Linked DNA regions of Homo sapiens: all the other regions are linked to region 2. The links come from fine-mapping of genetic effects on gene expression. A gene starts in region 2. Each other region holds a variant in brackets. All regions are shown on one strand. Distances are between the middles of the regions. Region 1 overlaps LOC100128993 (a long non-coding RNA gene). Region 2 holds the start of SH2D4A (SH2 domain containing 4A). Region 3 has its middle 23 kb from the start of SH2D4A.

The links.
Region 1: its variant is fine-mapped to the expression of SH2D4A in left ventricle (GTEx, PIP above 0.99).
Region 3: its variant is fine-mapped to the expression of SH2D4A in fibroblasts (GTEx, PIP above 0.99). The same link has a PIP of 0.9 or more in sun-exposed skin.

What each region holds. Positions count from the first base shown.
Region 1 is chr8:19,225,201-19,233,383 of GRCh38, reverse strand. LOC100128993 (a long non-coding RNA gene) reads left to right here. Exons shown (of 5, transcript NR_038919.1): 3 at 6,153-6,216. Among named protein-coding and RNA genes, the nearest start is that of SH2D4A, 84 kb to the left of the region's middle. The variant A/C (reference allele first, on the strand shown) is at 4,290.
Region 2 is chr8:19,308,820-19,317,002 of GRCh38, reverse strand. It overlaps SH2D4A (SH2 domain containing 4A), which reads right to left and starts at 3,310. Exons shown (of 10, transcript NM_022071.4): 1 at 3,180-3,310. LOC105379306 (a long non-coding RNA gene) reads right to left here. Exons shown (of 4, transcript XR_949550.3): 4 at 5,179-5,270.
Region 3 is chr8:19,286,411-19,294,593 of GRCh38, reverse strand. No RefSeq gene overlaps it. Among named protein-coding and RNA genes, the nearest start is that of SH2D4A, 23 kb to the left of the region's middle. The variant G/A (reference allele first, on the strand shown) is at 3,269.

The sequences.
Region 1 (8,183 bases), 84 kb after region 2:
ATCCTAAACTGAACCCTAATCCAACACTAACCATAAACCTAATCATAACCTTAACTCTGAACCTAAAGGTAGTGCTAACCCTAACTCTAGCCTTATCTCTATCTCTTGTCATTAGTCCTAATCTTTACCTTAGAACTGTCTTTTTTCAGGGTAGACCTGTTAGGAAAAAATATTATTTAGGACTCTAGAAACTAGAAAATTAAAACTGAGAAGTAAATTTCAGATTAAATGAATAATCTATAAGCAGATCATCAGGAGGCCATGTTTAACAACATATCATGATTGGGTAGCCTGACCCTTCTGACTGGGGTAACCAAAGGCTGGGTTAGGTGTCTGAAGGACATTCTTGCTTCTGCTTTCCAACAATAAGCATGCCTAATATGGGTTGCTATAAGAATTCAGTAAATATATCCAAGAAACAAAATCTAAATTGAGAGTACATAGACTTCACAAGGTGTATGCTAACCTTAATCCCAGTCTTCCTGGACTCCTGAAGTGTAACACTTTTTTTCTCCAGAAAAATTCTGGAACACCGATGCCTCACTGACTCATCCACTTATGTCTAAATCCCATTATGACCCCATCCAGACCTTACCAGCTAGGACTTATCTAGATTAGACTGGTAGTCATTACAGCAATGCCCAGGTTAGAGAGGTAATATTAGATACTGTATTACATTGAGAGACTTCACAACCAAGCTGAGGAAAAATGATTAGCATCCATAAGACAATGAGAGAATTTGATGGGATGAAACATAACTCAGTGTTGTGTTATATGTTGTACAGACTTGGATACTGAAATGGTTTAAAGTGACAGCTATGAGTGGACACAGTGGAGAATATTTTCCCTCATTTGTATACCAGTTAACAGCTCACCAAAACTTTATAACACATATCCAATCCTTCCTAGGATCTTGGGAGGTTGAAAGGGCAGGTATTAGTGAAATTATTCTTATTTTGCATATGCAGAAATAGGCTCAGCAGAGTTAATTATTTGCCCCCACATTTTCCAGTGAAAGTGGTTCATTTCAGACTACAACTCAAATGGAACAATTTCAGATACAATAGGAAGTTCATTCTATTTCATGGAATATATGAGACTCACACTGGTCCTTAGAGGACTGCATGAAGTTAAAGAGATTAGGAGGAACAAAGGAGTATTCTGACTGGTTAAGAAATATAAGGAGAAGGCTGGGTGCAGTGGCTCACACCTGTAATTCCAGCACTTTGGGAGGCCAAGGCGGGCAGATCTCTTGAGGTCAGGAATTCAAGACCAGCATGGCCAACATGCTGAAACCCCGTCTCTACTAAAAATACAAAAATTAGCTGGGAGTGGTGGCATGCACCTGTAATCCCAGCTCCTTGGGAGGCTGAGGCAGGACGATCGCTTGAACCCGGGAGGTGGAGGTTGCAGTGAGCTAAGACTGTGCCAGTGAGCCAAGACTGTACCACTGCACTCCAGCCTGGGCAACAGAGTGAGACTTTATCTCAAAAAAAAAAAAAAAGAAAGAAAGAAAGAAAAGAAAAAGAAAGAAATATAAGAAGAAGGCAGGAAGCTGGGAATGTGATAGGGAACAGCAGACAAGTGGGAGTGGATGAGGAAAGATTGAAGGGAAAAGTGGAGCTTTGAGAGTCAGGCAAGTTGTTTATATTTCATGCAGGGTTTCACTAAGAAGTCAATGAAGTTTTTGAGCCTGATAGTGATATAAGGAGGATCATCGGAATCACCTGATAGTGGTTTTCCGGGCAAATGGGAAGAGGGAAGCCCTAAGGACCAGGCAGGTGGCTTTTGGGTGGGGCTGCAAGGAAAGGATGGGAATGCAGTGGCAGGAGTTGTTATAAAATGGAATGAAACTGGTTTAAAAAAAGGCAATTAAAAAGCCTAGGGTTCGATCATGATAGATAAAGAAACTGAAAATATCAAAGAATTCCGCATTTCCAATAAGTAGTTATATGGCCTCAGGCAAGTCATAGAGTCTCTCTTGGCCCCTCATCTCCCCTAGGTCACTGAAATTATGTGCATAGAATTATTGGAATAATCTATTTCTCTTAATGAAGAAGGATAACTTAAAGATGGCAAGAAAGATGCTCTCAATAACATTATTTAAAATAGTAACTGGAAAATATCTAAATGCTCTATAATGGGGGAAGAATGAAACAAATTATAAGTATTATGTAGAAATTAAAATCACATTTAAGAATATGGGGACCACCGGTTGCGGTGGCACATGCCTGTAATCCCAGCACTTTGGGAGGCTGAGGCAGGCGGATCATGAGGTCAGGAGATTGAGACCATCTTGGCTAACACGGTGAAACGCTATCTCTACTAAAAATACAAAAAATTAGCTGGGCATGGTGGCAGGCGCCTGTAGTCCCAGCACTTTGGGAGGCTGAGGCAGGAGAATGGCATGAACCCGGGAGGCGGAGTTTGCAGTGAGCGGAGATCACGCCACTGCACTCCAGCCTGGGTGACAGAGCGAGACTCCGTCTCAAAAAAAAAAAAAAAAAGAAGAATATGGGGACATAAATGCTCATAATATAATGGTAGGTGGAACAGGACACAATGCTATCCAAATATTACTAAAAATAAATATGTGAATAGGAAAAAAAGAATTGGTTGAGAGAGATTATCTCTGGCTGATGGTAATGTGTCTGATCTGCACTACCATTTTTATACTTTGTACATTTCTGGAATTTCCAAATTTTGTACAATAAGCCTTTATTACTTTTATCATGAAAAAAATTTAGGAAAAAAGAAAAAAGGCATGAGATTATCTACTACTACTTAAAATCTTTAGATGTGTCCCTTATAACTGTTTCAAAATAAAATATCAGAATGAATAGAGAGGTAGCATCCTTCTCTATCTGACTTAGAAAATATGAGAGAAGTGGAATAGATTCTGACACATGGCTAAGAGAGAGAGGTGACCTTCATAGAAGAGAGAGAGCAGAAAAGAGAAGAGGATCAAATACTGCAGTAACAAAGCTGAGATAGCTGCTTTAACTGAACGGAAATCAGAGTCCTTGTCAGTGAAGTAGGCTGAGTTTTGGGAGCTGTTTATAGCTCCAATAAATACAAAATCAACTCAGGAAGTAGATAAGAATGAATTTATGTCACAAATGAAAACAATGTTTTATTGCACAAAATATTTCATTAGGTTTGCTAACTTCAAGGAGACCTTTGCTAGGATTCCTCTTGGTTTTCCATTAGGACTGCACAATGTTTTCAATGAATGTGTATTGAGGCATAAAGGAAAATCCACCATCCAGTGACATTATGAAACATCCATGTGTTGAGAATTTTTCATGAAGTTATATAAAACCACATAAAATATGTCTAGGAAATGAGACCACAAATGTATGCTTGAGGAGAATAATAATAGAAACTCAACAGAATAATTATCTTAATATCTTGATATTGATTCATGGTAATTCAGTTTTGTGCTTAGAGAGCAGATAATATAAGACAACAGGGCTGCTCATTTGAGGGAATATGGAATAGCAAAACTGCCCGTGACTCAGTTTCTTGCTAAATGTATTTTTCACGATTTTTCACTATTACTTAAAATGAAAACCATGGAAACTATCTTTAACAGGTAAGTTTCTGGTAAATAGAGCCTTCCACTTTAATTATCTTTGATTTTATTTTACTTTTACTTGTGTGTTATTGTTGTTATTCCACCAAATATTTGCTATTCAAAGTTCAGGAAACTCCCCCCAGATGTTTTTTTTTCCTCCCTGCAATTTGCACTGGCCTTGCCCAAGTTCACCATCACTGTCTGTTCTGGGTGTTACCCCACCTTATCACTAGATGAAGCACACTAGAGGTCTCTGCAAACCCAATAAATACCAAATCTGGAAAGAATCAGGGTGATAGAGGCAGAAAGCAGAGAAATCCTAGGTAGACAGGGGTGGTCAGGTCCCCAGTGAAACCCCACCTTCAAGTCAAAAATGACTTAAAGCCTGAAGGCCAAGCTACAAGCCAAATCCACAGACCGGATTGAGAAACTGTCTTCCATTTGGCATGCTTTCCTTTGAGTGAGCCCCAAACTTCAACGATTTTACATATACCTACCCTTCCCTAATTGTTTTTACGCTGTGCCCACCTTTTACTGGTGCCTTTGTTTTAACCTTTTTTTTCCATACTCACACACCAATCAGCATGCACACCCCTAGCCCCAGATTCAGCCACATCAAGAAGAGATGACCTGACTTTGGCAAAGACAACCTGACCTTCCCAACCCTCTCCAGTTCCCCTCTCTGCTGAGAGCTGATTTGTGACTCATTAAA[A/C]TTCTCTGCTCTCATCACCTTTCAATAGTCAGCATGACCTCATTCTTCTTGGACGCTGGACAAGAGCTCAGGACCCACCAAGCAGGGGTACCCAGTAGGGCTGTAACACTTGCCCTTTGCCCTTGCTGGTGGAGGGCAGCCACCCCACACAACAGAAGCAGTGGCAGAGCTAAGACAGTCCCAGAGCCGTGGGCCAGAACAAGTCAAGGGGCCAACTGAGCTTGCTAATACACCGCAGTCTATTGAGCTGCGGATGGCAGAACTAAAAGAGCTAATTAGCAAACTAACACCTCCTCTGGGGCTTTGGAATCACGGGCACCCCTGCCTGGGAGCTGCTGCATTCCCCTCAGGGTGACATGCCTGGTCTGGCCGCAGGCCCTGCATGGAGTTTGCTCCTGTGTCAGCACTCAAAGCAGCCCACTGGACCCTGCACTTGCTTACTCACATGCTCCCTCCCACCAGGGGCTGAGCACGTGGGCCAAGTAGATGAGGCTCCCCCTGCTGCAAGTCCGACAAAGGGCCAAGAAAAATTCTGTATCAAGGGCTCAGTCTTTCTGTCTGGTTTTTTTGAGGATCAGCTTGTCATTAGTCTTTGGGTATACCCAGAGAAATACCGTTTATTTTCTTTTCTGCCATTTTTACAAATATGAGTACAGCCGAGGAAATTAGCACATGTGGGTATACCCAAAAGTCAGGGGAGCTGGGAGGGATAGCGTTAGGAGATATACCTAATGTAAATGACGAGTTAACAGGTGCAGCACACCAACATGGGACATGTATATCTCTGTAACAAACCTGCATGTTGTGCACATGTACCCTAGAACTTAAAATAAGAAAAAAAAGAAAAAGAAAAAAAAAGAAAATAAATGAACATAGTGCTTAGAGGAAGAACTTGACTTTCTCACTACCCAGTGTCTGTAATTCTAGCCTATATTGTATGTGACCAGTGGGCAAAACTGCTCTCTACAGAGCAGGAGGATTTTTCCCAGTTGTAAGATATTTGCTCAATACTGATTATCAAAATAAACACTGTAAGATTGTTTGCTTATATCAACATAGAGGGAGCCAGAAAACAAAAGTTTCCATTTTGATACAAAATTTTTAAAGATGAACCTTGTTAGAATATGTTTGCACCTTTAAAATAGGAGGTGGAAAATAAACAGTGCTGGGAAGGAAGGACAGAAGATAATAATAAAATGAGACCTTTTGACCTTGTTTATATAAATGAAATAATTAGGCCCAAGATGGCTTTTCTGTTGCAAACTTCTCATCTCATGTTTTAACTTGAATGACTGTCAAAATAAACTGCAAGTTTCTGTACCATGTGTAATTGGTGTGACATCTGGGGCTCCATCAGAGGCCACTGTTTCTCTAACTTTAGCTAACCAGTGTGCTTCCTGTAGCGTGCTTTGGATCAACTGTCAGAGCCAGAGTCCAATTACCCTCTGGCACCTTTTCGAATCCTCTCCTCTTCTCTCTCTCTGTTTGACTTGCAGAAGTGTCCCTTCCTGCCCTTATATCATTCCTGTGCTGAAAAAGCTTATTCTCTTACCAAATATATATAAGCAGAGAGCTAACAGGGTTAGCTATATCTATTTGAAGAATTTTAAATCATTTTTCAACTGTCAATTCCTCATTTGCTTGATTACATGTACATTTTACACCTTTTCCTTAGCAAGTGAGCCAAGATCGTGTGTTTTTTCATCCATGGCTTGGAGTCTAGGAGAGAAGGAGGATGAGGAAGAAAATAATTTGAAGATTTTACAGGGAGAAGGGATTGAAATTTTCACTGGAATGGAATGACTGGAATAAACAAAGTCGATCATGCCAGGCAGCTTAACTGAAAGCATTTTATATTTTAAGTTTCAGACATAACCCCTCAAAACCAAAGCAGAACCTCTTCAAGGAGCTGAGAGATGCAAGCCTGGTAAGTCACTGCTTAGGATTTGAACTTTCATCTGAAGCGGAATACTAGCAAGAATATATTTTAGGAGAAAGTGTTTGGGTCCTTCAAAATTCCGTCTTTGTTTTATCCATAACTGCAAAGATAGGAATTCTTGCATAATAGCAGAGGTAATTTGGGGTATTTTGCTAGGCGGCTTTGGGGCATGTTTTCCTTTGGAGGCAGGAGAATCAGGAAAATATTTGTTTCACCATCTAAACCTACTCAAGCATAAAATCAAATGACCAGTGGCACAGTATTTGAGGATTTAGGCAGCTTAATGACCTGTGAATTATGCTTTTCTTTCAATATATTCTGAAATATTGGCTGGTTGGATACACAGTCTTCATGAACATACACTGAGGGATAATTTTTTTTTTAAATAGAAAACTCAAGTTTATCTTGATTCAGAAGATCTAGTTCTGTTTTAATAAAATGGAATTGAAACTTTGCTCTTTGCCCTTCATTTAATATCTCATGGTTACAGAGATGGAGTCATGGCGAAAGCATTGAGTTGATGACAAATGCATTTCAAAGAAAACTGTGACCGGTAAAAGTATTAAGATGCCATGTGTTTCCAAAGAAAGGCTGGACAATGAAACTTCGAAAGACAGAGTTAGAAAAAAAGAACTTTTACTTTCCTCTTATCCATAAAAAAAATCTTTGTTTTTGTAATCAAATCCCCTAACTTAGCTTCTATACAGCCCTTTGCCCTCAAGTAAACAGGGAACTACCTGAATGTGAAATCATTGCAGCTTATTAAATGTCAAAGAGAGGCTTGTTAACCAGACATATTAGATAACCAATTCCATGCAGAGCAATTGCTAACAGAAAATGTCAGTGTTTCCTTTGAAGACAACTGATGACCACACAGAATGTGAACGTTTATAAATAATTAGAAAAAAAAGATTAGAAAGCATGCAACCTCATGTCATGCTATACATTCTTAAGGAGAATAAATGTTACAATTAATGTCATTAATAACAATGACCAAGTATCAGTGTGTTAGAGATTGTGTGGAATGTAGACACTGTTTCAGCCTAATTCCATAATCACAATTCTGTTAATGGGCAGGATATAAGCTAGGAGTGAGATTTTAAAAATGAGTGTGAGCTGGCAAGGTTGGAGGTGATGAGGTGGTAGGACTGTCTGGGGAATATTTGATGTACTTTTGTAGATATGAAAAGATAAGCTTCTCAGAATAACTCCTTCAGTCATGAGGATAGGATTTTTTTGGGGGGGAGGGGTAGGTGGGGTGTGGAATAGAGAATTTTATTTTTTTCCTTACTCAAAACAGGATATGCTAAGCCTAATAGTTTCCGTTTTGCCAACGATCAAGATGTGATTTCCCCCCTGATCTCTGCCCTTGGAATTTCATTTTCCTGAGATGGGGAAAGGAATGGAGCCTCTCCACCCTCTTTTGGGTGCTCATCTTCTCTCCAAAAAGGAGAACATGAAATCCCCATGAAGAAATTCTGGCCCAATCAGAGAAACTGTAAGATGTCTCTGGGATTTTAAAGGATCCATCTTTGGATGGGTCTGAGAAAGCCTGTGAACTTCCGGCAATATTATGCAGACTTGCTAGCTGAGGAACCACTCCTTGCATCAGCAGGCTGTTGGAAGGAAAAGCACTGGCTCAAGAGAAGGAGAGAAAAGTCTTTGAACTAAGCCTGCCTTTGAGACCAGGGCTGCTTCTGCTGCAGGGCTTACACCCTGTCTCTCAGGATATTCATGAACAGAATCTCCCTGCTTGTGCTTTGTAAAGGGTGTCTGTGTTTGGAGAAAGAGAGACTTCCTTCCCTTTGTAAACAAATACAGGTCAGCCAGGGAGATTTAAGAATGCGGTAACTGGGTTAGCCTTGCCCAAGCTGGGCTAGGGAGTGTCTTGGCTGTGGAGGAACTGAGGTTTTCTGGGGTGAATCTGAGTTGGATCCAACAAGGTTGAGATGAAG
Region 2 (8,183 bases):
GTCATATTCCTCCAGTCTCCCCCGCCCTGCATATTCCTGATAACACAGCTAACACTTCTTGTACCAGGCACCATCTTAATTAAGCACTCTACATGTGTTAACTCACTTAATCTTCACAATAACCCTTGGAGTCCAGCCCATCACTATGCCCATCTCACAGATTAGGAAGATAGAGCACAGGTCAGCAGCTGGTAAGCGGCAGAGCCGGGCAGTCCAGCTCTAACTCAGCTTCACTGTAATACACAACACAGAGGCCTTTTTGTGAGTTTATTTGTGTGCCCAGAATCAGAACAGCAGGATGTGGTGCCATGTATGAAATTTCAGAATGGAAGCCAGCAAATTCCTGCAGCAACAGAAACGCTGAACTGATGGTGCTTGACACAGGGCAGAAGCCTCCTCCTGGTCAACTGTAGCTAAGCTTAGGGGAGGCCAGGTGCACACACCCCAGCCAGGAAGGACAGCAAGGAACCGACTGTCACACTGACCCAGGTGTGGACATTGCTTACCCACGTATTCACCAGACACTTAGTCCCATTTCCCCTTGCACTTAGTCATCCACTTCGTCTCTACAATTTCCCCTTCCAAACAAACACTAAGAACAGCACAAAAAGCACAGCCTCTCACATGTGCAAGGAGGTTCATGGCACCTCTGTGATGAAATTCTCACATTATTTCCATTTTTATGTTGTTTTGTTTTACTTTTTATAGCAAACGTGGATTTCTAACATTAAAATTAACTAGTTCATCTTGAAGGAAAGACACTGGCTTCCTTGTGCCTCCAAGAATACTTGGGGGACCCAGCCGACAACTATCTGTGGTCAGGCCGTTGACGATGTGGCCATTCTGCCACTGCTGAATGGTACTGGTGTAAATCACCTGTCCCCCTCACCCTCTAATTCCCAACCCCTAACCCCCGCTCCAAGGCTTTCTCAGACCCCAACTCAAGCTCAGCACAGTACACCCAAGACACCCAGAGGCACTCCAGCCTCAACTCCCAGCTCCGCCTCTAGTGAGCGGTGTGACTCTGTGCTGTCACCTCACCTCCTTGGGACTCAGTTTCCTCATCTGTGAAACGAGGACTGGTTCAGTCTGTGACTTCTAATGTGTGGGTATCTGACATAATCTACTGTGAAGCGAAGGAGCCTGGTGGAGCCAGGGTAGAAGAAATAGAAATCAGGAAATTAACTAACTAGGGCTTTCCTACTTTCACTCCCTGACAAGGAAGTAATCATTGCTGATACTGATTCAAACTCAGAGGACTTTCCCATACTATATCAAGGGCAGCAAATCTCCGGTTATTCAAGATCCAACAAAGGAATAGCTCAGCTAACACAGCCCCTTTCTTAAAAGAGAGAAATGATAAGCAACAAGCCCACACCTGCTATTTATTCTGAACACCAATTGCTAAAAGGTCAGAGAATCCGTTGTTTTCCATGATACCATAGATTTGGCCTGATTCTCACACCTTCACACTGTTCTACAATACAACTGTCTTTTGAATAACTCTGAGACCTAAACAAAATACAATTTTAAAAGGCCTTAGATACAGGCTAAATCATAAAAATAGTAGGCGGGCACAGTGGTTCTACATGTAATCCCAACACTTTGGGAGGTGGACATGGGTGGATTGCTGGAGCTCAGGAGTTCAAGACCTGCTTGGGCAACATGGCAAAACTCCGTCTCTACATAAAGTATAAAAATTAGCCAGGCGTGGTGGCCCGCACCTATAGTCCCACCTACTTGGGAGGTTGAGGTGGGGGGATCTCTTGAGTTGGAGAGTTTGAGGCTACAGTGAGCCGAGATCGCACCACTGCACCACAGCCTGGGTGACAGAAGGAGACCCTGTCTCAAAAATTAAAAACATTAGGTCGGTGCAAAAGTTATTGTGTTTTACATGGCCAAAAAAAAAGTAACTGCGGTTTTTTTTACGTAAAAACCGCAATTACTTTTGCACCGACCTAATAAAATAAAAAATAAATAAAAGTATTGTGGTATGGACAGTGTAACTATAACATTAACAATACAGTTTGAATTCTAATTCTTTTAAAACAGCCAGCTCTGTGGTCCAACTTTGTTTTCTTATTGAAACTTTATCTTATTCATCTACCAGCAAAAGGGCTGTTTTTGAGGATGAAACAAATTACCAGAGATGACAGCAGTTTGTAAATATATACTATTCTTCAGAAATTTGAGATTACTGTACACACAGATTTAGTATACATAGAGAATTCCACTCATATGCCAAATCTATGCCCCTGTATGCTTTCCACTTATTTATTCACTATTTTAAAATAATCGTACCCAAGTCGTTGTTTCTATTAAACCAGCAATCAAACGAAAGCCTTTGGAGCGATGAGGAGCATCTGTTTGAAAGGGGGAGGTGCCACGCTTGCTGCTTCTCTAAGCTCCCTGGGAAGGGAGAGACAACTCAGAAAACCTACAAACTGTAGCTCCTTCCGGTGCCCGCGTGACCCCCGAGTCCAGGAGCGGGCAGGGGCGCCGCTTGGCTGAGCGCACTGGGCACCCGGTCTGGGTCTGGGCCAGCCCCGCCGCTGCAGCCCGAGGGAGGCGGCGCTGCACTGGCCTCCGCGCGCTCCCAGACCCCACGTGGGGGCGCCCCTGGGTGCCGGTGCGCGGGGAACGTGCTGCGGGGGTGCTGCGCCAGCTGCCACCGTTTCCCGGGACTTCCCTCCTGGAAGATTTCCATGCGCAAGTCGAGGACGTGCTCCTGCTAGGAGTCTAGAAACTCTAGGCCAGCCCGGACCCTCCCGGGGCCTGCACTCCCCGCGGGTGGAAGCACGCGCCGCGTGTCCCTGCCGGATTCCAGAACTTCCCCGAAGGTCCTCAGCCCCGGCAGACCCTCTCCCTCGAAGTTCCCCCGCCACCCCCTGCAAGCCCCCAGGCCCCGGGGACCGCCGCTCACCTAGCCAGCGGCTCCAGACACCGGACACCGGACACCGGACACCGGACACCCGCCGCGGCCGCTCTCGCCGCCCAACCCCGCACCTGAGCCCGCCCCGGGCGCCGCGAAGGGGTGGAGGCGGGGGTGAGGCTTCCGCCCGCCCGCTCTGGCCCCTGCGCCTCCCATGCACCCATGCAACCTCCGAGGAAATTCCCTTCCCCCTACTCCCACCCCACGCACACTCTCCCCAAAGCCTCGCCCCACCCCCAGCACCTACCAGTGCTGGGCGCCCCTGGGCAGGGTGGCTCGATCACCCGCCACATCCACTTGGCCGCCAGAAGCCGTCGGGGAAGGGAGGGAGGGAAAGGCAGAGGCGTCCCAAGCGGCGCAGGCGGGCTGAGCAAATACTCCGGCCCGGACGCAAAACAGCTCTTGTAGCCGTCCCGCCCGCGCCGCCCCGCCGCGCCCACATGCCGGGGTGACTGGCGGGGCGCAATCGCGGCCCCACCCGGGCGCCTGGAGGCTCTCCAGGGCCACTCGTCGGCGAGGCTGCGTGGCCTGCGCATCTCGGGCCGCCTGGCCCGCGCGCTGTCCCCGAGCTGCGGTAGTCCGGGGTAGGCTTGTCCTCTCCTCTCTTAGTTCATGAGACAGGGATCTGCAGTCTGTGATCTCTTGGGGACTGCAGGACTTAGATTAAATCTGCAGATCTGGGCCTTTCCACGTTTCAGAGCTCGGGGTTCCTTGCTAGGTGTAGGGTAGGAGGGTGCGCAGGCCCCACTTGTTCACTCTGCTTGGGTGCTGCAGGCCAAGGCGACTCTGGAGCTTTTTTTTTTTTTCTTTTGTTGACATTAAGTAAATGATCAAACTCTTTGGCACTTGTCGGTACACGTGTGGCTTTGTAGGACAAGATGAAGGAAGGAAAAGGCTGGAAGGAAGGAGACCGCAGTCAACACAGACAGGTGGAGAAAATGAAAGAAAACTGGGGGAAAAGTTAAGATGCTGAAAGGAGTCTTGAGGATTGCAACAAGAACAGGTTGGCTTGGTGCCTGAAGACGTCAGGGAGGAGCTGGCAGTCCACAGTTAGAGGAAATCTTGGAGGAAAATTGAGCAGAAGCACAGTGGAAAGGCATTTCCACTGGAGGGCATTTTCCATCCTAGAGGAGCATGTGGAAGAAAACCGCCTGCTTTGGTGAACCCCAGATTTTGTGTATTGGGAGAGATGTAATAAACAGTAAACACCAGTAGTCCTCTCCACGGACTACCTGACCTCTTTAGGAGCCTGACCTGCTGGATTCAAACACAAAATGGCATTTCCCTGCCTCTCCAAACTGCAGAAGCTGTGCAGAGTTACATCAAGCCTCGGGGCAGGCGGCATTGTCAGGAAATAAGACCCAGCTATTTAGGAACAATTCCAGGAATCCCATCAGGGAGGAATTTCTGGTGTAAGGCTTAGTTCCTACTGCAGTTTAAATGATAGCATATGGGGTGCTTTAGGCTGGAGTGGGATTGGCCCCTGGAAAGCTGCTATGACGAGGTCAGAATGAATCCTAGCCCTGCATGGATGCATCAGTTGAACCATACAGGGTGGTTTATCAGTTAGGAAAAATCCCACAGGACACTGTGACAGCCTACCTTCCTCACACCCAGTCTCTCTCCAGGTCCTGGCAAGTCCTTCCTTATAACAGCTTTATCACTGTGCTACTAACCTCTGTACCTCACTTTCCTCCTCTAGATAAAGAGTGTCTGCCTCGGTAAGTTGTCAAGAGGGTTAAATGAGATGCTACATGCAAAGAGATTAGAAGAGCTCTTGGCATGTGGTGAGTGTTCAAACACATTCACTCAGATCAGTTCATATCACATTAAGGTACTGGAATTCCACATTCCTGCCATCTCACCCTAGGCTGTGGGTTCTGCCCACCATGCCACCTACCTTCCAAGTCATTCCCAGGGATCCTATCCTCCTGGTATTCACATCCTTGCATAGCTCCCTGCCACTTTGTAAAGGTTGGTATGCTTGACCAATAGAACCCGGCAGAAGTGATGATGGTCTGCCACTTCAGAGATTAGGTAAGGAAACACCTTGGTGCTTCTATCTTGAAATAATATTGACAGCCCAAAGGAACGCACGCTGTACACAAATAATGCAAACAACTCAGAACCCAGACTCTCTTCCCTTTTCTCTCATCTGCCCATTTCCATCCTTCTTGTCTCGTGGCTCTTTCCTATATTTGCCATGAACTCTTCTTCTTCTCTTATTTTTATAGTTTCTTCTCCATCCTCTTCACTTGGTCTCCCCTCTCCTCTATCACCTTCTCTTTTTGTTTCCTTTCTGCTGACTCCTGGAATTTCCTCTTTTAATTGGCATGGTCTGGAAGAGAAAAGGTAGATGTTTTTCCCTTAATTTCAAAAGTAGACAATTCGAATTTTTTTTTTTTTTTTTTTTTTTGAGATGGAGTTTCACTCTTTTTGCCCAGGCTTGGAGTGCAGTGATGCAATCTTGGTTCACTGCAACCTCGGCCTCCTGAGTTCAAGTGATTCTCCTGCCTCAGCCTCCCAAGTAGCTAGGATTATAGGCACCTGTCACCACAACTGGCTAACTTTGTATTTTGTTTTTGTTTTTTTTTTTTGTTTGTTTGTTTTTTAGTAGAGACTAAGTTTGACCATGTTGGCCAGGCTGGTCTCAAACTCCTTACCTCAGGTGATCTGCCTACCTTGGCCCCCCAAAGTGCTGGGTTACATGCGTGAGCCACTGCGCCTGGCCAAGAATGTTTTATAATGCTCTAAAAAAAAATCAGGTGGCCTATTACTTGTGGGGCCTTCAGTTACTTTTTCCCTCCCTTTGGGCCAGTACTCTCAGAGGAAAACATTTCCCCCCTCCATGATCTAGGATGTGTTATAGGGACGAATGTGGGGAAGACTGCTGACAGGGGCTGGCCACTGACGAGTCACAGACATGGAACATGGTAGCACCAACATGTGTTCAGGAATGCTCTGCTGCAGCGTTCACTGCCAGAACTTAAAGAGAAAGCTAAACATCTATTTATTGGTTACTAATATTTTTAATTTGTCATTTATTCGTGGTAATGAATACCATGAAACAAATAGCCTACATTTTAATGGATGTGTTCCTTGGCCTTCCTTTTGGACTGTTGCTTAGGAGCCCTGCTGCCCAGGGCTGTCAAGTAAAATGGCATAGCATGGCCCTTGTACAACTGTGGGTGGGCAGGGGACAAGCACAGAGATCACTATGTGTAAGGCGCCCCCTGGAGTTGTGCAACACTGCCAGCCCTATTGTTGCCAGAAAGACAGGATAAGCCACTTTGCACTTTTTCTGAGATAAAGATTAATCCTTATTTCAGTTCTACAGACAATGAAAATTGCCTTCATATGTTTTCTTTATAAAATAGAGTATTTTTCCTGTCATATTTTATGATCAGCATCAGAAACCTCAACCACTTTTTAACTGTTAGAGCAGGTATACACTTGTACCACAGTGAATGTAACGTACAAATGAAAGAAAAATACAAAAACATTTAAACTTTACTAAAAACTGATCAAATCTCAAAATAAATCTTAATCAGTTCATCAATCATTAAAAATATATTTAGGGTCTGCTGTGTTTTCAGCTCTCTGTGAGCAGTTAGATTTGATTTTGAACTATTTTCATTTGTGTATGGTTCTGTATGGGCCTTTATTTCTTCATCTTCATAAACACCAAGATAAATTATTGGTCTTTACATTCATCTTTGAATCAATTACATTACTGTAATATTTAATGTTTTTCCAAGAGTTACCTTTATGGAGTTCTTTCTCTAAAATCCACACTCTGAGTTGCTAATTAGACATTTCTGGTCTCTCATATGTGTGTGTGTATATATATATATACATATATATATGTGTGTGTGTGTGTGTGTATGTGTATGTGTATATATGTATGTGTGTGTATGTATGTATGTGTGTATATATATGTTTTAGATGGAGTCTCGCTCTGTCTCCAGGCTGGAGTGTGGTGGCACGATCTTGGCTCACTGCAACCTCCACCTACCGGGTTCAAGTGATTCTCCTGCCTTAGCCTCCAGAGTAGCTGAGACTACAGGTGTGTGCCACCACGCCTGGCTAATTTTTTGTATTTTTAGCAGAGGCAGGATTTCTCCATGTTGGTCAGGCTGGTCTCAATCTCCTGACCTCGTGATCTGCATGCCTCAGCCTCCCAAAGTGCTGGGATTACAGGTGTAAGCCACCATGCCCGGTGGTTTCTTATATTTCTGTAATACAGTGACAAGCAGCCCGTGTCTCAGAGAACTGCTCACCTCAAACTTATGGGTGGAATTGGACAGTCGCTATCCCAACGATATGGGACATCTGCAGTGGCCTATGGTAACCAGTGCTTTTTTATGGGTCAAAGCTCTGAGAAAGGAGCAGAAGCAAACTTTTTCTAATATTCTGGTGTTCCTTGGATCTTCCCAGGCAGTTTTGATAAGGTCTACTAGACTCATAAAATCAAATCTCATCTCTTTTTTGGACCAGATTCAGAAATGCGTTTCCATTTCCTAGCTTCTCTCTTACAGGCAATCTTTGCAAAAAGTGCACAAATCCCTTTTAGTTTTATAAGGAATTTTCTGCAAATGAGTACAGCAGTTCTCAAGTACATATTAAAATAACCCAGGGAGATTTTCTTTGTAACATTTGCCTCTTTGTCTACTCCTCCAAGGAGTTATTTGATTGGGATGAGATGGAGCGCAGATATCAGCATTTTTTCAAAGCATCCAAGGGGATACTAATGTGTGGCCAAGGTTGAGAGCCACTAAAATATATGGAAATAAAGTTAATTGGCTATGAGAAATGTTGAAAAAGCAGTAATGGCACTTCCTGGACTTTACTGAAACATATATAAGGCTAGATAATCATCTTCTTCATTCTGGTTTTTGAGTGAGTTCCTAAACTCAGTCTGAGATAGACTTTCCACCAAACCCAGACTGTCATTTAATAGGATGGGAATGAAATGAGATGCATAAGATGACAGTGTCTGGCTTATTATGGGATGCGCAACATACACAAGTTTTACTTCTTTCCTTCCTTCCACTTCTTCCTGGTTTTGAAACCCCCGACATTCCCTCTGGCCCTTTAGCTGAGGAAGGCATTTCCCTCTTTGGCACCAAAGGCTCGCCCACTCCCACACACACCCCATGCATGGCTCCAAGTGTCCTCCAGATTTCTCTAACTGGAAGTTGAAGTGCATTCTGCCCTTTGGTAAAGTAAGACACTTTGCCTCTTCCTCTAA
Region 3 (8,183 bases), 22 kb after region 2:
AGGGGACCATGGCTCAGTCAATCCTCTCTCCGGCCCCAATGTCCTTATCTACACAATGAAAAACTTGCAGGGAAAGGAATCTAAAAGTCCAAAATTTGACCCTTCCATGAATCATGAGAATCAGACAACAAATTAGCCTGAGAATCTGAGTTAAGTGTGATTAAAAGCATATTCTATACGTTTCTAAATTTCAGCAAATATTTATGTTTATAATAAAGAACAAATGAGAAATGAAAAAGAGCAATAAATGAGAAAGATTTTAATAGTGCCAACAATCTGGTTTTTCCAGCTCCTGACAAGGTTTATCCAGTCATCAATCTATGCCTTTTCTTCTCTCACAAATTAGGCACCTAATGGTTTGAGGTTTAAGTGAGAAATGACTCAAGACTAAAAATTCTGGTTCGTCAGTTGGACTAGAGGCATTTTCCTATAATCGCTTAACTTTTTATTTTCATTCTTCAAGATTAATTTGAAATCCACAGGCAGGCCAGTTATATGTAGCATTGATGTGTCACAGTGATGGCAGTTTGCTGGAGCCTCAAAGGAACAAGGTTCTATCTAGCCTGGGCAATGTAGTGAGACCCCATCCCTACAAAAATTTTTCTTAATAACCAGGTGAGGTGGATCGTGCCTGTAGTCCCAGCTGCTTGGGAAACTGACGAGGGAGGATCACATGAGCCCAGGAGTTTAAGGCTGCAGTGAGTTATGATTGCACCACTGCACTCCAGCATGAGTGACAGAGCAAGACTCTGTCTCAGAAAACACACAAACACACACACATACACACACAAATCAAGGATCTGGAAGGATATAAATGCCCTCCTGTGTTTCTCGTGATGCAGCATCTAGATGAATTTCAAAACTGCTTTGCCGTCTACCGAAGGTCAAATGAGGTCTGATCCACTGCCCATCGGCTAGTGGTGATTAGTGAGAGCTGATGCAGAGGAGACTTTGGAGATTAGACACGGTGATGGGATTCCCACACCTGTGCAGCCTTCCCAAATCCTTCCTACATTCCCAGCTTGTTGTCCAGCACTCTCAAAATAAGTGTTACAAATGCATGGGCACCCATATGGAGCTGATATGTTTGAATTTTTTCAATGACAAGTTTCTAAGATCAAATTCAACAGTAAAAATAAAAAATACATGTCAAGTGCTAGTATGTTCTAAGCACAGTGGTTGGTAGGGGAATATGTGAAAAAGCAAGATAGAGAAGCTTCTGCCGTCAAGGTTTTAGTCCAGTGGGTAAGGGACTAAAAATCGATTGATCAAGCAAAGATTTTAATAGGTTTCTGCCAGGCTCCTATTTGCAGAAGACCAGGATTATTAGGGCAAAAACATCACTCAGACTTTAAGCGTCCTGCCCATCACCTTCTCTCCCCAATGTGGTTACCTGAAACCCCACACATGACAGGATGGATTTAAACACTCAAAACACGAATGAAGTATCCTCTTCTCTTATCTCCCTGGGAGTCTGCTCCCTCTTCTGTCTTTGCCTGGCTCTAATTTTGTCCTCTGACTACTGTATACTTTGAAATTAAGAAAATGGACAGAATGGGCCAGGTGCGGTGGCTCATAACTGTAATCTCCGCACTTTGGGAGGCCGAGGTGGGTGGATCATGAGGTCAGGAGATTGAGATCATTCTGGCTAACATGGTGAAACCCCGTCTCTACTAAAAATACAAAAAAAAAAAAAATGATCTGGACATGGTGGCGGGCACCTGTAGTCCCAGCTACTCGGGAGGCTGAGGCAGGAAAATGGCATGAACCCAGGAGGCAGAGCTTGCAGTGAGCTGAGATTGTGCCACTGCATTCCAACCCGGGCGACAAAGCGAGACTCCGTCTCAAAAAAAAAAAAAAAAAAAGAAAGAAAATGGACATAATGATCACAGGTTATTACTTCCATCCACAGTTTATTACCTCCATCTGCCTTGAGCTGTGTGTGTTTCTAGATCCCATGGCATAGATAGACAACACAATGTTGGCTTCCATGCAGGTGTAAGTGACATGTAACTTATGCGCAGCATATATCCATGTGGACTTTCTCATTCCTCACCCCTTTTATTCTCTCCAGCTGCTTCGTACAACTGGATATGGGATTGAGGAAAAGAGTTCAGAGACCACTGCTTTATGTGAATTGGTGTATCCTTTAAGAAACTATTCAAGGCCGGGTGCGGCGGCTCACACCTGTAATCCCAGCGCTTTGGGAGGCCGAGGAGGGCAGATTACCTGAGGTCAGGAATTTGAGACCAGCCTGGACAATATGATGAAACCCTGTCTCTACCAAAAGTATAAAAATTAGCCGGGCATGGTGGTGCACACCTGTAGTTCCAGCTACTCGGGAGGCGGAAGCAGGAGAATTGCTTGAGCCTAGGAGGCAGAGGTGGCAGTGAGCTGAGATCTCACCACTGCACTCCAGCCTGGGCAACAGAACGAGTCTCCACTTGGCACAGGCGGTGGGTGGGGGGTGGGGGGAGAAGAAACAATTCAAGTAGCCTTCCATGAAACAAGAAAAGCTTACACTAATTGAACATTTACTATGTGCTGGACACTGAGTATCTTACGTGTTTTAATTCATTTAACCGTCAAAGTAAACCTTTTGTTATATCTGTGTTACAGATGAGGAAAAGAAGGCAGAGAAGTTACTTGCCAAAGATTAAGAGTGGAAGCGCTTGGATATCAGTCCAGGTTGTTAGATTCGCATGTTTGTGTCCTTAACCTTTATGCATTATGCCTTCCTGGAATGAAAAATGGATTAGGAGTCTTCTTTGTCACATTTCACATTCCTCTTGAATTTGTGTCAGCAAAGTTGCAAACCTAAAGTATGCTCGGCATCCACAGCATCATCCACAGAATCTAATCTATCTGCAACGCTGGCCTCCCTGCCATGAAGCAACAGCATATCTCTGAGTCACTGTTGGCGTGAGCATCTGGCTAGCACTTACTGTTTCCAAGCCAGCATGCCTGTCTGAAAGTGAAGCTGTCTAACCAGCTTTTCAACTGACATCGCATGGGGAAATAATTTTTCAAGGCGACTCTTTACTTTTATAACTTCCTTGGATAGTCGTATTGTTTGAGTGGTTATGAAACACAGCTTGAAAAGTATTCTTTGATTTAAATACTTAGAGACGTAGTGAATGAAGCATAACAATTTTTAGTCATTGCAAAATGTTTTGCCTCCGTCAAGTATGCTTCATTATTTGGATTGTTGAATGGTCAATCAGTATAATGCTTTTGAAAGGGAAACCATTCTCTGAAAATCGTAAGC[G/A]TATTTATTAATAGTAATCATTTCCTGCTTCTTGACCTTCATGGATGTAAATCTATGCTGTCTTAGGTCGTTTGATTGTTTCACATGTGTAAATCTTGACTGTACATCCAGATTTTAAATTCCTTAAGGACATATCAAGACAGCTAAGCACACAATAAGTGTAAAACCTAATAAATACTGTTGCCAAAACAAATAGAAAATATACAGATACTAAATTATCATTAGGTACTAAAAATTAATTTTTTTTTTTTTGAGACAGGGTCTCACTCTGTCGCCCAGGCTTGAATGCAGTGACATGATCTCGGCTCACTGCAAACTCTGCCTCCTGGGCTCAAGATATTCTCCTGCCTCAGCCTCCAGAGTAGCTGGGACTACAGGCGTGTACCACCATGTCCGGATAATTTTTGTATTTTTAGTAGAGACAGGGTTTCACCATGTTGGCCAGGCTGGTCTCGAACTCCTGACCTCAGGTGATCCACCTGCCTCGGCCTTTCAAGGTGCTGGGATTACAGGTCTGAGCCACCGTGCCCGGCCTAAAAATTAAGTTTTAAATGATGAACAACATTTCAGAATTTATTTTGGAAAAAACTATTTAATCCCCAAGCGAGAAGCGAGTGCAGCCTCCTTTTTATTTATGTTGTAGTTAAAATTAAATGACACATCTTCATGAGTATAATGGAATAGTTATTTTTATAGGGCATTAAAAAAAGAATAACATGAGTTTCTGAAGGACATTCAATTCCATAAACAAATATACTTGTCTTTCCCACAGTAGAATTTAAAATAAAGTACTCAGCCTTTATGTTTGTATTTTTTACATTATTATTACAAAGAAGGCCATTTCTATCCCCATCCATGTTGCACCCTCGCTTCCCAACCTCGGCGGACCTAGAAGCCTTTGAGAGTGGCCTTCACAAGAGGGCTGTCTATACCCAATCCATGTCCTGTCCACAGCCGTACAAAGAGGCAGACCCACAAATAAAATCTAAATCTTTGAGCCAGAAGCATCAGCGATCACCTTCTATTGTTACTGAGTCCAAATCAAGGGTTTTAATTTTGGGGATTTTGGTGTGATGTCTGGCAATATTAATGCAGATGATGAACAGTTTTATCTTTTAGTATTAGTTGGTTTTTTTGTTGTTGTTGTTTGCTTTCAGAGACAGAGTCTTCCTCTGTCGCCCAGGCTGGAGTGCAATGGTGCTATCATGGCTCACTGCAACCTCTGCCTCTGGGGCTCAAGTGATCCTCCCACCTCAGCCTCCCAAATAGTTGGGACCACAGGCATGTGCCACCATGCCCGGCTAATTTTTGTATTTTTTTATGTTGTTGTTGTTGTTGTTGAGACAGAGTCTGGTTGTGTTGCCCAGGCTGGTCTTGAACTCCTGGGCTCAAGCAATCCACCCACCTCGGCCTCCCAAAGTGCTGTGATTCAGGCATAAGCCACTGTGTCCAGCCAGTATCATGTTCCTAAACAGTGCCTTTCACATAACTGGTCTTCAACTTGGAAGCTAGCATACACATGACCTTGAGGAATGACCCATGATAGACGGCTGTGGAAAGACAAGGGCAAAAAGGCCAAAAAGGCAATGAATGTTTTATACAATGACTCTCTCAAAACAGGTGAAGAGAGGCATGAGATGAAACATACAACGCTATTAGGGAATCCAGGCTCGGGGGTGAGAAGCACATTCTCACCAGTGTGCAAGCAGGGTGGTGAAGATACAGGCATAGAGAGAGACAAAGAAGAGGTGCATGACAAGCTAGCGGGAGAGAAAGGACAGATATTCCCAAGGAAACCTAAAGAAAGCTACTCTGGGCAAGTCATCTCCAGGCCTCAGTTTTCTTAGCTTCAAAATGAGAAGAGTGGATTATTTCTCAGTGTTATAGCAACTCACAGAAACTAACTCTAGCAGGCCATTGCAAAAGCAAGAATGTACTGGAAAGATGCTGGAACATGTAGAATCCAAAGAAGGGTGGAAAACTAGGCCACAGAAGCAACAGAGACCAGAAAGCTCCAGAAAGCTGAATTTGTGGTTTTCTTTCAAGCATCTTGCTGTGCACAGGATTCAGCTACAATCCCCTTCCCTGCCTCCAATCCCCTTCCCTCCCTCCAATCCCCTTCCCCGCTCCAATCCCCTTCCCTCCCTCCCATTCCCTTCTCTCCCTCCAATCCCCTTCCCTCCCTCCCATTCCCTTCTCTCCCTCCAATCCCCTTCCCTCCCTCCAATCCCCTTCTTTCCCTCTGCGTCTCTCAACTTGGAATTTTCAATTTCTAGAACAGGCAGTCTGCTCAGCCCAGGGTGGGTCAGCTGTTCACACCTGGATTCATCACTATGACCAGGAAGATTGGATCTTCAAGTACAGCCATAGCTATTGGCTCACCCTGTGTTTTGGGTAGGAATGAAGCTAGGTGACAATTTCCAGAGAAAGGCAAATAGATGAGATCTGGGTGCCCACTCCAATATGTTTTTAGTTCTACCTAAAGTTTAAGTAAAAATAATGTAGTTATGAAAATATTTACAAGTAGGTAAAATAAATGCCTTAACGTATGACTAAAGATGAATAAGGTTGATCAGGAAGAGGTTCTTGGAAGCAAGAAGGTTTATGAATGGAAACTTAAAGATTTGATGAGTCGCTGTCTATTCCAGGTAGAGGGAAGAAAATGCACAGAGACTCAGAGAGTCATTTTTTTGGGGAGAGCAACCACTTTGCTGGAGTAGCCCAAAACATTAAAGTCAGAGAATAAAGAGCTTTAAAGTTAATTAGATTAGAGGTAAGATAATTTGGCAAGGGCTTGTAGGTGGGAGGCTACCCAGGGGAGCAGCATGTTATAATGGAAAAAGCATTTTAATAGCGTCCAGGAAGCCTGGATTCTGCCATGAATTAGCAGTTTCTGTTTGGGTAATCAAGTTCCCTTGGCTTCAGTGTAGTCACCTGTAAAAGAAATCTATAATTCCACCACGGGCAATTGCATTTTATTTGTTTATTTAAAAAGTGTTCATTGACCAACTACTATGTGCCAGGCAGAACTCTAAGCGCTAAAAATTCAGCAATGAAACAAAACAAACTGCTTTCCCTTGTGCAGCTTTATTGATACCTAATCAGTAAAGTAGGAATCAGAACAATGATTAATTCAGATACATGACGATCATAAGTCTTGCCTTATTTTCTTTTTCCTGCATTTCCTGTATACACTTCCTTTCCAGAGCCTCCTCTTGGGGCTACATGATTCTTTAGACAGCTCTCTCCCTCTGCTCTATCAGATAGTAGTTTCATCATCAGAAAATATTTGCCAAAGTCTTAAATTGGAGTTCTTGAAGAGTCCCCCCAAAATAGTGCCACTCTTTTTCTTCCCCCTCAAGTTCTGAACTAATTAAAAAATAAGGGGAAAACATTTTGTTTCCAAGATGGCGGATTGGAGACACTGTTAGCCTGCCTCTCCCCTTGGAAAGACAAAATAGAGTGTAGGGATTTATGCTGTGAACTTTTTTCAAAGAAGCAACACAAGAACTTAACAAAACAACGGAAAGAAACTACAGACCCTTTGAAAGAAGCAGAAGGCGGCAGCCTACACCATGAATGAGCCAGGCAGAAAACTGTGAGTCCCTAGAGCATGAGGTGGAAGACGCTGCCTCCATGATATTCACTCCTACTGTGGGGCCTGGCAATCCAGGCCATGGGGTGAGGCCTTAACCCTGCCCAGTGCTGATTTTGTAAGCGGTAGGGAGTGTATGAGAAGGAGCAGCATTGGGATGTGCTTTTTGTGCATTCCCAGACTCCAGCAGGGACAGAAGGAAGCCATTCATGATCCTACCTAATAGGGGACCTTGCAGAAATCAGCCAGCTAACTCAGGTGGTGGTCACAGGTTGAGAGAAGCTCCCAACTGAGATTTGTGATATAATTTTGAGTGGTGATGAACCCCCTTGTCCAGAACTGAGGCACAAGCAGTGTGTGTGCTTTAGCCACACGTGCAGGAGCTGATTGTGCTGTTTCACAGGCAGACCAGGAGAAGTGTAGTTGGAAAACCTCAGTTTCTGTCTGGATAGGGAAGGTTTATAGCCTGGGGCAGTTCTGGGTTCAGAGTGCAGGCTAACTCCAACCCAGCTAGCTGCTGCTGGTGGAACACTGCATGTGTGAGACCTGCCTTGCCAAGCGCATGGGAGCTGGATAGGGCTTACTGCTGCCTGCTCCTCCCCACTCCTTGTGCAGATTCTTCTGTGCAGCAGAGGCAGCTTTGGTCCACCTGGATTATTACCCCAGTAGCCAGGGAACCGCCCTCCAATCTCCACTGGGGCCGCTGCTTGCACCTGTACATGGGAAAGTAGGATACAGCCTTGCCTGGCCCAGCGCCACCTGATTTTGTCCCTCTACCTACCCTGGTAGCTTAGTATAAAGGACAGGTAATTTTGAGAGCTCCATGGTGCCACCCATTGTCTGAGACACCAGAATACCTCCCCTGGATAACATAAGGCAAGCACAAATCCCACCAGTACCACTGCAACTGGCATTCTTTTGCAAGCACGCACCACCTCCTAGCTGGAGGCCAACCAATACATGCCATTACAACATTTGCAGGTACAGTAACACAGTGCCTAGGAACGAGTACACTTTTGCACAACCTTAGCTATTACCCAAGCCTGCATCACCCTGCCTAACCAGGAAGGCTTCACTCTGTCTACATGACCAGTACGTTACCAGTACACCTGGCATTTGAGAAGAACAACATACTAAGGTGATTTATAAGGAAGGAAATCTCACAGAGTCTACATCATTCCCATTCCAACACCATCAGAGTTGTTGCTGGTACCTGCTGCTGGAAGGCTAAAAGAGAGGTCACATCACTGGATCTTTTGTGGACATCCCCTAGCACCAGCCTGAAGTGTGGCAGTCCCACTGCACAGCTAGACCCAGAGA